Linked DNA regions of Homo sapiens: region 2 is linked to region 1. A link means that fine-mapping ties the variant in region 1 to the expression of a gene that starts in the linked region. Tissue or cell type: testis. Region 1 holds a variant in brackets; the other region holds the start of a gene. All regions are shown on one strand. Distances are from middle to middle.

Region 1 (8,105 bases):
TTTTAAAATTACTTAAAAAAGGTTGTTTACAGAGATGTGGATTTATATAACTTGGTGACAACATTTTTAAAATGTACAGGCTATTTCATATTATTGCACTTACTCTTTAATATATAAGGCATTTTACTTTACATAAATAAAGGTTAATGTATAATATCATACAAAGTTATGGTGCCAATTAAGTCAACCATCAAATTCAATGAGATGTGTGGGAAGATGGAAATGAAACCCAGCCTACTTTAATCTTCATGGTATATTCTTGCAACTACGGTTTACTTGTTATAACACATATTTATTTACCCTCATAGCTTATTGTGAATGACTGACCAGTTAAAAAAAAAGAAACAATGACAGTTTTAGTAGGACAATACCATTAGTGTTCACTTCAGAAAGTGTGGGAATTTATTAGGCTAATTAGAAATACTAGTCATGCCTTGAACACTGAAGACAAATAAATAGCTTTCTATCTATCTTAGGGTCAAAGACAGTTTAGCTTTTGCTTCTTCCCTTAAATTTCAACTGTTTGTTGGCGAGGGAAACCTTCTGGCAAGATGTAGTAGCAGTGGCTGATGACTTTAGCATAGTGTATGTGGTAAGCCAGAGGTCTACCCTTGTACTCCAGATATGAGGATTAAAAAGACTTGCGGAAGGAGACCATTCCATTTGCTCCACATTGCACAAGAAATTCCTGTCTGTTCACATAGGGCTGTGCGTTTATTAATTAATTATTATTAGGCACAGCTGTAAGAGTGGAGGCGAAAAGCAGTTTTCAGTGTTGTTGACTTGAAATAGTCTTTGATTTAGGCAAGAAAGCAGAAACCACAAAACTGACCCCAGAGACTGAAAAACAATCAATCAATATCTATCAATCAAGCATGCACCTTGCACTGACTTCCTACAGTATTCTACCTGTAACTGTAGTGAAAAGTAGAAGTAAAATCAATAAGACCTTTCTAACTAACTCCTGTACCATATTTTCCTTTGTATTGCCAGTTGATGAGAAATCTGGACTCAGACAAGCCAGCTATTTCTCTCTCATCTGAAGGACCTCTCTAGGCCGACTTCAAAGATGTTTAGTGGGATTGGTCATTCAGAAAAATGATGATGTACAAAGCTGATGGCTAAAGCCCCTCCATGAATCTGGGGGTCACAGCCATAGACCCAAGCTGTAGGTTATTTAAAGAAGTATCTCCAACATAAAATCTTAGTGTCATGCACACAGGTATGGCAAATGCACTCTCCACTCATGTTGTCAGGGCTCAACGGGTTGGTTTGTGCCACTGAAGACGACCTGGCTTGTAACTACATTTCTGCTCCTTTACCTTGACTCACCCTGTTTCTCCTCCTCTTTATGACCCGATGAGAGTTTGGAATTATTTACCTAAGAAAATAAGGTACATCATGAGGAGAGAAAAGCCAGCTATGTGACGACGAACGGAATATCCAATCGGAATAGCTACTGGGAAGCAGCTCATGCCACCAGAGGAGGAGTGGCCAGAGTGAGTTTCCCAAGTAGCGTGAGTCACGACAGTCTTCTGTAGGAAAACATTTTTGGCAAAAGGAGGAAATTGCAAAGCGGGAAAACGAAAACAGCAAAAACTTAAGTCACTGCAGTTGTCATTATACTAGGTCAAGAAAAGAGATCCAATACTTAGAATGTTACATTTCTTAAACATGTTGGGAAAGAGGGAAAAAAACCAACCAGTCTCCTAAAAGGATTCCATTAAGCTCCTCTATTTGGATTGTACATACATTGTCTATAAATCCAAGGACACTTAGAAAGATACTTGATTTCTAAAAATTTAGTTTAAATTCATGGTTGGAGTGCATAAAATTCAGAAATGGAAACCCAGTGACTGACTGACTTGTGATATTTTTGTCTGCTCTTGGACTGACCAGTCTTGAATTCAAGCACTTATCAAGACAGGTTCAAAAACTAGTTGTAAGGTGCTTTTAGATGTTGACCTTTCTGCTCCCTCTAAGCAGTGAAGCTCATGGCTATTTAATACAGCTTATCAGAAGTGCTATTCTGTAAAACAGCCTTATGGCTTACACTTTTGAGATAGAAAATGATCAATACTTCATGGTGATCAATAACCTATTGAGTTGAACTTTGCATACGTACATTATACATTACACTCACTAAAAAATACTCTCAATTAATTATTTTGCTTTTTCCTTTTTGGACAATTCCTGAGCTCAGCCTAACAGGTCATAATTCATTTTTTTAAGTAAGTCTTATTCTCTTTTCAGGGTAACATATACAGACCTACATCTCCTCCTTCCATTGAATGTGCCTAAAAGCATTCTGTCATTTACTTACAAAATCATACAAAATGATTGATTGTCCTCTTAGGTGTGACATTTGTGTCCCCCTCAGACTTTTAGTTCCCTGATCACCAGGATTGGGTATGTTGGGAGAGCTGGCAAGAAGGAAGCAAAGGTCTAGCTAAATGTTTGTTTGTTTCAAATAAAGAAGGGTGTGTCACATCTTGTATCCCCATCAGTAAACATAACATAAAGGTAGGGGACAGGCACTGGAACGAAGGAACCCTCCCGGCCTGGGTGACGCAGGTGGAAGGCTTCTGGAGTTAATTTCATTGCTGTTGCACATACAGTTAAGTCAGGCTTCATGTGTAAGCACAAGCTTGGAGATTTTTATAGTCCGTGTCTGTACCAGTGTTGGCCATTTCAACAACCTGTGGTTTAAAGAAGTCACTCTGATTTGCTAAAGAAAGAAGAGAACTGAGAAAATGATTCTTGTTAAAATTCATGAAGAATTCCTATGCTTTCTAATTAATAACTGCACAGGTCCTTCTGGGACAGACTTCATAATATTCCAGGCATCAAAGTGCATGAGCCCAACCAGAGGTTTCCCATTAATAGCAAGAATTTCATCTCCAGCTTCTATTATTCCAGCTTGTTCAGCCGCACCACCTACGAGAATAAACACAGAATAATTAATAGCTTGGCAGTTTCATAGTATTCAAAAATCCTAAGTAAACTAAAAACTTTTAAGTGATAAAAATATCTAAATAATATATTATTGAATAGAGAAATATTTCTTAGAACACAAAAAGCATATATCCATAAAAGTAAACTGGTCTACAGAAAACAGTGCAACTCTAGCCCTCCTGCCGCCCCTCCAAACATAATCTGTAAGATAAAAATAAACTGACAAGGGGAAGATACTCTCTATGTATTTAATCAACAAATGGTTAACATCCAGACTAAAGAGCTACAAGTCAACAAGAATAACACAAAATAAAGTTGGGGTAAGGAAATCAACAGCTGAACTCCAAACAGCCAGTAAACACAGAAAAGCAGGTTCAACTTTTTTTGTTGTTGTTGAGACGGCCTCACACTGTCACCCAGGCTGGAGTGCAGTGGTACAGTTTTGGCTCGCTGCAGCCTCCGCCTCACTGGGCTCAAGCGATCCTCTCACCTCAGCCTTCAGAGTAGCTGCTACCACAGGCATACACCACCATGCACAGCTTTTTTTTTTATATTTTTGGTAGAGATGGGGTCTTGCCATGTTGCCCAGGCTGTCAGCTTCTAATTGTTAACAGATTCTGGCTGATATATGCAAGTTCTGAGAATCAGTGATTATGTGCTCATTAGTGACCATGG[G/A]GACTACTTACTTACAGAGTTTAGCATGTTCACATTATAGCTTTGTCTAGCTTTGTATGAGCTTTGAAAAAAATGCAAGTGTAAACCCTCCATTTACGTTCTCACACATATACTTCTAAAGGTACACCAGCTATGGAGGCATCTTATGGAAAAAAAATGGCATTGAAAGAAAAAGTCCCAAGTGTGAAAAAAATTTTCTCAGAAATTTTGATTAGACCTCAAAAGACTGAGCAGATGTATCGATTTCATCCTAAATTACTGAAAGTCGTTATTGAAATTATTGAAATAAATATTATGTGATAAAAATACAGCTTGGAAGAAATCCAGCCCACACAAGGACAAAAACATTTTCTGTGGTAAATGATAGAGGCAGTTAGTTACATTAGAAGAGAGACCTCACCAATATCAGCCCTGTAGTGGGCCCCAGGAAAATGATTTGGTCCCTAGTCCTTGCTTTTCTTGAGATAGATACATTTTTGGAAGGACCAAAGAACCAATTATATTTGTGTTAACTTAGTACCCAATGTCCTATTCTAGCATATTAACCGAAGGCCTTCAGGTTATGTGAAACAAAAGAATTTTGTGAGTGTTCACCTGGGCTTCAGGACATGGGAGGTTCCAGGCAACCAGAACAGCCTGACGCACACTGAAGGAGCAATCAGACTGGGTTTGGTCTCAAATCTGTGACTTCAGGCAAGTTACAGATTTCTCCAAACTCCAGTTTTCTCATCTGCAAAATGGTGATGATGATATCTGTCTTGTTATCTTACTAGGTTGTTAGAAGGACTGAATGAGATGAAGTAGAGGAAAGTCTTCTAGGACAGGGGTCCTCAACCCTTGGGCCACAGACTGGTGGCAGGAGGGCTGCACAGCAGGTGAGCAGTGGGTGAGTGAGCAAAGCTTCCTCTGTTCACAGCCTCTCACCGTCACTCACACTACCACCTGAGCTCTGCCTCCTGTCAGATCAGCAGCAGCATTAGATTCTCACGTGAGTGTGAACCCTATTGTGAACTGCATATGCGAGGGATCTAGGTTGCATGTTCCTTATGAGAATCTAATGCCTGATGATCTGTCATTGTCTCCCATCACCCCCAGATGGGATGCCTGGTTGCAAGAAAACAAGCTCAGGGCTCCCACAGATTCTACGTGATGGTGAGTTGTATAATTATTTCATTATATATTAAAATGTAATAACAGAAATAAAGTATACAATAAATGTAATGCACCTGAATCATCCTGAAACCATCCCCCACCCAAACCCTCACCATGGAAAAATTGTCTTCCACAAAACCAGTCCCTGGTGCCAAAAAGCTTGGGGACTGCTCCTTTAGGAAACATTCAGTGTTGTACAAAGCAGAGGTTTGCCAGCTTTTGGACTTTTTACACAAGAGAGAAATAAATTCTCTCGTTTAAACCACTGCTATTTTGGATTTCCTATTACATGAGGCCAAACTGAATCTTAACAGATTTGAGCAGGATATGTCTCTCTCTCCATTTACTCATAGATTTTTTAAAATTGTCCTTTAGAAAGCTTTTATGCTTTTTCCCAAAAAGGTCTTGCATAGCTTTTGTTGAACACATTCTTAGGTTCCTTATGCTTACCATGAATTGGTGTCACACAGTGCACAATCTGCATTTGGCTTTTTTTCATTCAACACTGTTTTTGAGCCGGTCCCAGTTAGTATATAGAGAGAGGTGTAATTTATTTTTTCAACTGCTATTTAGCTTTCCTTTAGATGAATATATTTTATTCTGCTACAGATAGAAATTTAAATTGTTTCATAGCTTCCATTTTCGTAAGCACTGCTAAAATTTTCCTTAAAGATTAACCAGTAGATACTTGCACGAGAAAAAAAATGTGTTTTCCTTTCTCCACATCCTTGCCAACACATCATAGTATGAGATTTTTTATTTTTGGCCAACTTGATAGATTAAAAGAATGATTTATAATATTTCTAATTTTCATCCAATACATTTAAGTTTGAGCATCTTCCTGTGTTTCTTGGCCACCTAGGTTTTAACTTCTGTCCATTTGCTATTGCTTTCTTTACCCAAACTTTCTCTCTTGTATTTTTCTTACTGAATTATATAGTTCTTCATATATTCTGGATTGATTGATTGATTGATTGATTGTTTTTTTTTGAGACAAGGTCTCCCTCTGTCACCCAGGCTGGAGTGCTGTGGCACAACCATGGCTCACCACAGCCTCGACCTCCTGGGCTCAAATGATTCTCCCACCTCAGCTCCTGAGTAGCTGGGACTATAGGTGCGTGCCGCCACACCCGAGTAATTTCTGTATTTTTTGTAGAGGTGGAGTCTCGTCATGTGGCCCAGACCGGTCTTGAACTCCTGGGCTCAAGTGATCTGCCCACCTTGGTCTCCAAAGTGCTGGGATTACAGGTGTGAGCCACGGTACCCTGCCTATTCTGGATATCAACCCTTTGTTTATTAAATATATTGTAAATATCTTCTAATCACTTACTTTTGAATTTGCTTATAAATTTTGCCATATAATGAACATTTTATATGTTTTTTTTTTTTTTTTTTTTTTTTTTTTTTAGATGGAGCCTTCTCTGACCCCAGGCTGGAGTGCAGTGGTGTGGTCCTGGCTCACTGCAACCTCCGCCTCCTGGGTTCAAGTGACTCTCCTGCCTCAGCCTCCTGAGTAGCTGGGATTACAGGCATGCACCACAATGCCCAGCTAACATATTTTTAGTAGAGACGGGGTTTCACCATGTTGGCCAGGCTGGTCTCTAACTCCTGACCTCAGGTGGTCCACCCACCTTGGGCTGCTTAGGAGGCTGAGACACCAGATTCACTTGAACCTGGGAGGCAGAGATTGCAGTGAGCAGAGATTGTGACACTGCACTCCAGCCTGGGTGACAGAGCTAGACCCTGTTAAAAAAAAAAAAATTCTTTATTATTCAAATGCTTGTTCTGTAATAACCTTACTCAAAGAAATCAGTCTTGCTATATTGTTTTCTAATGCTTGAGCTTAAAGACACAGGAAAACAAAATGAACAGAAAACCTGTACTCATGAAATTTGTAAATATGAAATACGAGATAAGGTGAATCCTGACCTCAAGTGATTCGCCTGCCTTAGCCTCCCAAAGTGCCGGGATTACAAGCATGAGCCACCATGCCCGGCCAGATAATGACATCTTTAGTCTCACTAGTTTCCAAAGGTGGGATCTGCCGTATCATACTCAGAAATACTTGAATGGCTTTCCCCAAGAACAAAACCACAGGCTTGCACACGAGAGCATCTAAAGCGCTAGTCTGTGGGACTGACAATTTTCTTCTTCTCTATCCATTTCCATAGCAGTTTTCACAGATTTGTGGCCAGATGCTAGAGACAAAGGCTGAGAAGTTGTCCAGGACGTCATATTCTTGCTTTGCTGGAGGCAGATCTGAAGGATGTCATCTCTCCTGTGGCTTCTTCTAGTGTGGGGTCCCGAAGCCTGGCTTCCCCAGCCGATGTGCTGCTTTAGTCAGCGTCTGCCCTGGTCCTTCGGTTCGCAGGCTCACACGCTTTTTTGGGTTGTGTCCCTTTGGACTGCAGAGGCTACGTGTCCTGTGACCAACCACGAAGGCGGCCACTCCCGCTCCCCTCAGGAGTGTCTTAAAATACCTCCATTTTAGCTACCCTATTGAATGACAGGTTAGCTGGGTGCTGGGTTTTCAGGTGATGGACATTTTCCCTCAGTCCTCTGAAGGTGTTGCTGGCTTCAGGCATTGATGCCGCCACTCTGATTGTTGTATGCAGTGAGCAAACTAGAATTTTCTCTTGGCTTTCTAGATTTTCTTCTTTATATTCTGAAACTTTATTATATCAAGGTTTGAATTTTATTTTTTTTGGAGACAGGGTCCTACTCTGTCATCCAGGCTGGAGTGCAATGGTGCAGTCCTGCTCACTGCAGCCTCCAAGTCCAGGGCTGAAGCGATCCTTCTGCCTCAGCCTCCTAAGTAGCTGGGATCACAGGTGTGCACCACTCTGCCTAACAAGGCTTGTTTTTTGTTTGTTTGTTTGTTTTAAATAAATACATTCAGATTGTTTTGCCCCTTGATGAGTTTTTCAGTCTGCATAGTCCTGTCATTTTTTCACTTCTGGAAAATTCTTAGTCATGATTTCTGCAAATATTTCCTCTCATTCTGTTTTTTCCTTCTGGAACTCTTTCATTACCTTTTTGTAGTCATCTCTTTATTTCCCTATACTGCATTTTTTAATGGTTTCTTCTGTTCTGTTTTTACAAATTCTATCTATCTTCACATGGATTTAGTCTATTTTTTACTTTTACTCATTAATTTAAAAATACATTTAACTCCATTTTCACTAATGAGGGTGTATGTGCATTTAGTTTTTACTTTTAAAGAAGCAGGGTCTTGCTCTGCTGTTGAGGCTGGTATTGAACTCCTGGGGCTCAAGCAGTGCAAGGAGCTGAGACTACAGGCATGCGCTACCACACCCAGCTTG
Region 2 (8,105 bases), 470 kb after region 1:
AGATGCCAGGATTGTTCTTTCCCTGCACTTGCTCACCTCTTCCAGCCCAAACACCCCTGATCTAGCTTCTCTACTCTCTCCCACATCTCTTTTGTTTACCAAACATGCCTGGGAGGGAGAATGGAGGGACTCTCATGAATAAACCCTCCTTCAATGCTACAACCTCCTCAAAATACTGTGGATTATTTTCAAACAGCACACTTCTGGATCCAGTGTCTATACCTGCAGTTTCACTGTCTTGGCAATCATTGTCTCCTTCTTCCCTTGCAGCCTGGCTTCATGAACACCCCTTGCAGACACTGTTCTATCAGTGGCCTTTTCCTATCATCCTTCTGGGGATGGGCGTCTCTGAGACATCCCTGCCTCTCCACTTGTCTGCTAACCTCTCTCATGGGCTTGTCTGCATAGCTCTTCCTGTCCTTGAAACTCAACTCTGACCTCAGCATCCTCCCTGGTGCTGCGGGGATGTGTCTGAGGGCAGAAGAAAGAAGCTGAAAACTTGAGTCTCTAAGTCTGTCTTCTTAAAGAGATTCAGCCTCTCTTTGGATTTGCTCCTGACCTTTTGTGGGTTCATCTTTGGAATTTGTCCCCTTGTGGATGGTGCAGTAGGAGAGACCTTCCAACAGAGATGCCCCCACCACCATGGTCCGAGTCACTTAGGCCCACATGATCAAAGGCAAGGGGGTATCCACAGCTCTGTGTTATCTTGTTCAGCTCACCAGGCCTGGAGCCTCTGGGAGAGGGTTTCCACAACACCCTACAGTATGATCAGCCGGGGGTAGTGGGGTCTGGGGTGTTCCCTCTGCCTCTTTTCCTGTCTAACCTGAGGAAGTTGATTAGCAACTGTTCCAGGCCTTATCTGGGTATGAAAAAAATAAGGCCCTAAAGAAACACACCCAGGGCAGCATGGTGAGTGTGCTAAAGGGTTGTGTAGGAGCAGAACGAGGGGCCAGGTTGGGCGCAGTGACTCATGCCTCTAATTCCAGCACGTTGGGAGACCAAGACACCAGGATCACTTGAGCCCAGGAGTTCGAGACCAGCATAAGCAACATGGTGAAACCCATCTCCACAAAAAACACAAAAATTATCTGGTTGTGGTAACACACACCTGTGATCCCAGTTACTCAGGAGGCTGAGGTGGGAGGATTGCTTGAGTCTGGGCAACAATGAGACCCAGTCTCAAAAAAAAAAAATATCTCACACATCTCCCTACTATCTGGAGAACTAAGTTCCTCTGAGTCCTTAGTTCCTCTGAGTCCTTAGTTCCTCTGAGTCCTTAGCACTGAGTCCTAACTCAGGATCAACCTCTCGACTTCTACCTAAGAGCTCCTCCACAAAGCCTTTCAGATCCTCTCTGGCAAAAGTGACTTCTTTTTCCTCCATACTCCCAAAATGTTTTATTTGGACCACTCTTCAGGTACTTTACTCACTTAATTATCTCTTCACTCCTTCATCCAATAAACACATGGCGTCTACTACATGCAGCATGTGCACTGGTCTGCACCATAGTGCTTAGCAGGCTTCTCTCCCTTCTCCTGCTGGACAGAAACTGACAAACTGACAGCAGCGAGGGAGCATCTTTCATCTAAGCATATCCTGGAACCTCGAAGCCTCCTCAGCCTCCAGCACAGCAAACCACAGGTATTCCAAAAATAAAATGATTGAAATGAACAGAGAAATTATCATAAGTTTCCTTAAATAGTAAACTGCCATAAAGTACATGCAAAATCAATTTCAGCGATAGATTTAAAGTATAATTCAATATTTTTCCAGGAGCATATTAACTATGTCAAGGTAGGTACATTTATATACTTTACATGGTTCTGATTTTTCCTCTCCTAGCACCTGCCACCCCCCTACTCCTACACCTAACCCCCGCAACACACACACTCACTCACACAACTAGGTGGTTATTATAGGAGCAGAAGCTCTGGGCCCATCCTAATGGAAGAAGGAATTCATGAAGCCAGAACCACCACCTACAGCCAGGGGTGTGTTCTGAGACATTCTCTTCTGCCCCCACAAGCAGCACTCCCACTTCACACCTGCCAACCTGTACCTATCTGGCCACCACCCAGAAGTCACAACCCACAAAAGCTGGCCCAGTAGAGATGCCAGGCCCCTAAAGCCCTCCAGTGTTCAGAGACCCCACTGGAGAACAGGCCCTGAAGGTCCAGGGGGTCTCTCTGCAAGGACAGATCAGGGCATCACTTACTGCAGCCACTCAGCAACCACTTCCAGTAGTTTCATTGCGATTTGTCAAGGCAAACATATCCACCTACCCTACCTTTGGTGGAGGCAAGAGGTTAGGCCAGCTGCAGGGGACAGACTCAGACTCAGCTCCATCCCCCAACACTGCCCAACGGCCAGTCCCAGGGCAGGTCTGGAGCTCTGGAATGCCCTCGTGCCTGCCATTCCAGTCTCTGCGACCAGCCCATGCCAGACCTTGTCCTCTTCCCACTCCAGTGTCCCTTATCAAGGTCTCTGCATAGATTTGGGCTGCCGAGGACAGCTTCTGGCAAACTCCTGCCAGGGGTCCTGGACCCTCCTGCTGCTGAATTCAGCCTTGCGCTTTAATGGATTTTCCAAATAGCGGGGACCACAGGCAGCTCAAAGACTTAAAACACAAACGCAAACCCGAGGGAGGGAGAGAGGAACAGAGGGAGGGAGAAACCAGATTTTAGGAGAAACTCGACTTCAGAGAGAGAGCAGGATTTCCCTATCACTATGTTCCCCATCTCCCCGGCAGACGCCAATAACCGGCCCTAAGATGCCCTTGATCTTTGCGCGCCCCCTGCATTCCCTCGCCCCGCGTCTAACGTCTCATCTGGGCAAAGAGGCGGGGGTTGAGAGATGAAACAAGCCCGAGGGAGGATGGTCCCCAAGACATTACCTGAGGCCGGAGTACCTGAGTACCTCCACTCCTGTCGGAGGAAGGGACCAGAAGACGGCCCAGGGATGGGGACCCGGGATGCGCGCCCGAGCAGGAGGTCCCGGCCCTGTCTTGAGTACCCCCGGCAGTGCGTCTCCGGTTGTCCCGCTGTCTCGGTCCCGCTCTGTCTAGCCCCCTCCCCTGGGCTGCGCCCTCCCCGTCCCCGGCCGGATGCTAGAGGAGTTTGCGCCGCCCAACGTGGGACCCCGGTTCGGCGTCCTCACTCCCCGCCCTGCCAGGGCTGGGATTCCCGCACCCGGATTTGTAGCTAAACTTTCCTGGGCACACACGGTCTCGGGGGTGCCGGGCCTCCCCCATCCCCTGCCCACCCGGAGCCGCGCGTCCCGGCTGCAGCGGGACGGTCGCTTCACCTGCTCGCGGCTTGGCCGAGGCTCCCGCGGCTTCCTCGCGCGTCCAGACCCAGGCGCCGCCCGGCGGGTCCCCGCGCAGCTGCCGCCACCGCGGCCACCACCGGTGCCGCCGCCGCGCCTGCCCCGAGCTGCAGAGCCGCGGTTCGCCGGCAGCCGCGGGAGGCGCAATCCCGGTGCCTTGGGTTCGGCCTGCGGCTCCTCGGCTGCCTGCAGCCGCCGCCCCGCCGCGTCCCGCTGCCCGGGGCCGGCACGCACCGGCGCTGGGGTCCGCTCCTCGCCTCGCTGCGCAGGGGATCCGCCGAGCCTCCAGGATGGGCGGGGATTCCCTCCCCCTGGTTGATTCGAGGGGCGGGAACTCCCTTCCCCGAGTGACAGGGACGGGGGGCGGGGATTCCCCTGCAGGAATAACAAGGTGGGCGGGGATTTCCCCGAGCGAGCCCCGCCGCGGGCAAGGCGTCTCTCTGGGTGAGCCAGGAGTCCTGGTGCGCCCGCTTCAGAAACCTGGGGATCGTGGGAGGAAGGCATCCAGGGAGATGGCTGCTCCGAATCTCCATACAGGCGGGGCTTAGGGCGCCATCTAGGTGGAACAGAGCGAGCTAGGGGACGTGAAGTTGCCTCTGCATAGCACTTTACACAGCAAAGAGAAAAATGTCAGTTACCTTATCAAAGAATGGGGCGGAGGGGCCACAGGAGATGGGGGAAGAGCTAACCACTCACCCCAAGCTACCCTTAGCCTCTGGTCCTTGGGATACCAAAGGTAATTTAGCACTGGTACGAGGATTTCGGGGAGAGGGGACCTCTTGGCACCTCAGAGCTGCTTAATCCCCCAGTTAAGCCCCTGGGGGGGAATCCCATGGCCCTGGGGTGGTGGTTTTGGTCCCATGAGCACTAGCCACGAGCTCCTGCCGAGTGGACTGTGAGAGCTAATGCCAGCCGCCCTTGGCTCCCGTCCAGGTCACTCGAGGAACCGAGCCTCAGGCTTTTGGGATCCTTCATTCCGGTGGATTTTCAGGAAGGCCTTCAAATATTTTTGGTTCTTTTTTTGTCATCCTTGTCATTCTGCCTACCAAAGGGAGAGGATGATAAGAACATAATAGGAAGACTGCACAGCTCTGCAAATTAAGCTCTCTTAAGAGGAAAAAGCTGGTCTTTTTCAAGTGCTGGCAGATAAGAGTAAAAACATATGAAAAATTGCAAAACCTGGGATAATGAATAGTTGAATAATGCTTTTGACATTTTCTACAGAACAGTAATTGGAAATCTTTGCTTTCGGGGGGATGGGGATGGGACAGGGCAGGCCCCAGCTGCAGTTCTGCCCAGCAAGGCAATAAACTCTGGCCTCTCCGAAAAGCAGGCAGACATAAATCACCTGCGCAGACCGGACAGCGCTGTCCCACCACACCAGAGACCAGAGTGGGCCCAAGGCATTTGGAGGTGGTATTGTCCTCAGGGGCTGGGGTGGAGAAGTTCTTGATTTCAGCTGTTCTTCAGCTTTTATAATTACCAGGCCATTGAGATCAATGCTTGCACAAATCCAAGCATCGTATATGACAAGCTGGGCACTCAGGCACTCAGAGCTTCTCTTCCTATGTGTAAATAGAGAAAACACCTACCATGCAGGATTGCTGGAACTAGCAGTAACACAGCTATTCAGCACAGCACTTAGGAGGTGCTCAATGAAATGGTAACCATTATCAATGAAAGGTATCATTGGGACACTACAAAAAAATCCTTCTAGAAGGATCAAACAGGGCTGGTGCTTTCTGTTTTTTCCACAATCCCAGGCCCATCTTCCACCACTCTGTCCCGTGTTTTCTCAGCCTCTGTACCCAGCACATACCTTGGGCCTACCTCCCTCAGCACCAATGAAAAGTTTGCTGAATCAATGAATATGCAAATAAATGTATCACTCAAACTGTAGTCACTGCTATTTCTTATCCACTCCATCCCCAACTCTTTCATTCCAGCCATGTACTCCTAATCTGTAAATTCTGTTTCCTCTGCCAGAGTGACATTCTCACTCTCCTGTGTCTGCTGAAATCCCAAGGAGGTAAATGTCATCTCTACTGGAAAGGCTTCTCTGATCATCAGAACAAACATCACGTTTCCTCTGCCTTGTTAATTGCTGCAATGGTAGCACTTTATGCAAATTGCTCATCTAACCCTTGTCAGGTGTATTATGTTGTAGGAATTATGGCGTTTTGTCTCACATATTTCTAGCTTGTGAGTTCTTGGAGGTAAGAGAACTTAAAGCTTATTGTTTGTGTTCCCAAAGCCTAGGGTGGCATGGTGTCCGACCCAATAGCCACTCAATAAATATTTGCTGAATTAAAATGAATTGTTAGGTATATACATGTATGTTATATGTGGCATATATTATGTATAAATACAATATATACAGATGTATTTTATAATCTGTCTCCTTCAGACATGGCCCTGCTGACCTGCTTTAAATACTTCGTTTCAATCACTTTTCAGCTGATATTTTCCAGATATTTTTGGCAAGTTCTTATCTGCTAATAATAGCTCAATTCACAGAGGTCAATCAAATGCATGGAAATTTTGTTTTGCCCTTGCAGTCTTGTCAATTTGGAAAGCTGACAACTGAGGGCATTTATTTTCCAATGTTTGAAGATCAAAATGTAAATCCTTTTTGCCCCCTTGTTAAACATTTAGTCACAGATTAGTATTTCTATCAAAGTTGCCATTTTAATTTAGTGCTCATAATATATGTGATGTGGAGGAGGAGGAGGCTGTATATAGAATATCTAAGACTTCAGAGCAAAGGAAGATTAAAATGATAAACAAAGAAAAAATGTGTGATCCCAAGCTATATCAGTGACAGAATGTAGCGTGGTTTAGGTGAGTCCAAGTAGATTCTCATGGATTGCAGTGCCATGTGGTTTACTTCTGAGCTTTCTCCCTCTATGAAGAAAAATCTACAGACCAGGCAGCTGAAACTAAAACTGGAGGTTTGCTTACCAACTCTTGAAAAGACTGCTTTCCATCTTTCCGCCTCAGCTGCTCTTCCAAGTAAATTTCAAGGGAGGAGAAGTAGCCTTAGTCAACAACTGGCTCAATTCCCTTTCTCCTCCCAGCCTCTGTGGGTTCATTTTATCTCCAAAACAGATTCTAGCTTCCTGTTTACCTAGCGAATTACCCTTTTTTCTTTCTTCCACAAATTCCTGGCCACTAACTCTTCCATTCATGACCTCACGCTAGAACGAGCCATCTCCTGGCCAAGAAAGGGGCTTAAAAAGAACAAATGAGGCCAAGTGCCCTGGCTCATGCCTGTAATCCCAGCACTTTGGAAGGCCGAGAGGGGCGGATCACTTGAGGTCAGGAGTTCGAGACCAGCCTGGCCAACAGGGTGAAACCCAGCTTCTGCTAAAAATGCAAAAGTTAGCTGGGCATGATAGCGGGCGCCTGTAATCCCAGCTACTGGGGAGGCTGAGGCAGGAGAATTGCTTGAGCCTGGGAGGTGAAGTTTGCAGTAAGCCAAGATCACGCCACTGTACTCCTCTCTGGGAGTCAGAGCAAGACTCCGTCTCAAAGAAAAAGAACAAATGAGTGACGATGGTAGTAAAACATTAAGTCAGTGGATCTCAGTCTGGACTACACTTAAGGATTCCCAGAAGTTTGAAAATTTAAAAAACTCCAGACTCACCCCCTGAGATCACTATATACTTGGTCTTTGGGGAGCCCCTGGATGCCCCTTAACCAGAACCCCAGTGATTGTAATTTGGGTGGCCCACACAGGATAACTTGGAGAAACACTGAAGTAGAGTGACATGACAGCTGAGAGGGTGCCCAAGGTCACATTCCAGTACTTGGTCATAGTACTGTAGAGATAAGACTTTATTTTAAACATTGATAAAAATGTTGTAATATTTATCCCGTCTCAGATGAAATATTTTATTTAGCCAAAACACAAAAAAGGACCTGCATTTGATGCATACTGGTTTTTTTCTTTTTCTTTCTTTCTTTCTTTTTTTTTTTTTTTGAGATGAAGTGTCGCTCTTTTTGCCCAGGCTGGAGTGCAATGGCGCGATCTTGGCTCCCTGCAACCTCTGCCTCCTGGGTTCAAGTGATTCTCCTGCCTCAGCCTCCTGAGTACTTGGGATTACAGGTGCCCACCACCACCCCCAGCTAATTTTTGTATTTTTAGTAGAGACAGGGTTCCACCATGTTGGCCAGGCTGGTCTCAAACTCCTGACCTCAGGTGATCCGCCTGCCTCGGCCTCCCAAAGTGCTGGGATTACAGGCGTGAGCCACTGCACCCAGCCCATACTGTCTTAAAATATATATTTAGGGGAAAGGTTTAAGTAAGCACTTTTCATCCACGTACATTGAAAATGAGTTTCACTGTATCCATGAGCGTGACGTTGGATTTTATGCAAATGTGTTTTATTGTTTCCAGTGTGGTCTAATAATACTGCACGTGAAGAATTTGTAATTTTCTCCTGGGCTTCCCCTTACAAGCCAACCCATTATTTTATATCTTTGTCTCTCAGCCTTCCATTTGTACTATTGAAGCATTGGTTGCCACGGTAATTTTTTTATACAATTTTTGGCAGAAAAAACTGAATTACAAACTAGTAACTACAGACCACGTATGACTTTCACAATTTATATAGATGATTCAATCATTTTGCAATAGGGTAGAGTGTAGTGTTTATCCAAGTAGATTCTTTTGGACTGTGGTGGGATTTGATTTACCTTTGAGTTTACTTGCTTAACACACATTAAGACACCAGCAAGACAGGCCTGGCGTGGTGGCTCACGCCTGTAATCCCAGCACT

Which allele goes with the higher level. Alleles are on the strand shown, and positions count from the first base shown. SD is a standard deviation of normalised expression in the study named.
As copies of A replace G in region 1, the expression in testis of the gene that starts at base 3,610 in region 2 goes up (moderate effect, 0.43 SD a copy in GTEx).

Evidence for each region. PIP is the estimated chance that this variant, and not a neighbour inherited with it, causes the effect.
Region 2: PDZD2 starts here. The variant in region 1 is fine-mapped to the expression of PDZD2 in testis (GTEx, PIP above 0.99).

What each region holds. Positions count from the first base shown.
Region 1 is chr5:32,102,801-32,110,905 of GRCh38, reverse strand. PDZD2 (PDZ domain containing 2) reads right to left here. Exons shown (of 25, transcript NM_178140.4): 25 at 1-2,937. The coding sequence ends at 2,771. It overlaps LOC105374711 (a long non-coding RNA gene), which reads left to right and starts at 2,715. Exons shown (of 4, transcript XR_007058716.1): 1 at 2,715-4,618; 2 at 4,726-4,782; 3 at 6,954-8,105. The variant G/A (reference allele first, on the strand shown) is at 3,631.
Region 2 is chr5:31,634,636-31,642,740 of GRCh38, reverse strand. It overlaps PDZD2 (PDZ domain containing 2), which reads right to left and starts at 3,610. Exons shown (of 25, transcript NM_178140.4): 1 at 3,304-3,610. RefSeq lists a silencer at 3,307-3,656.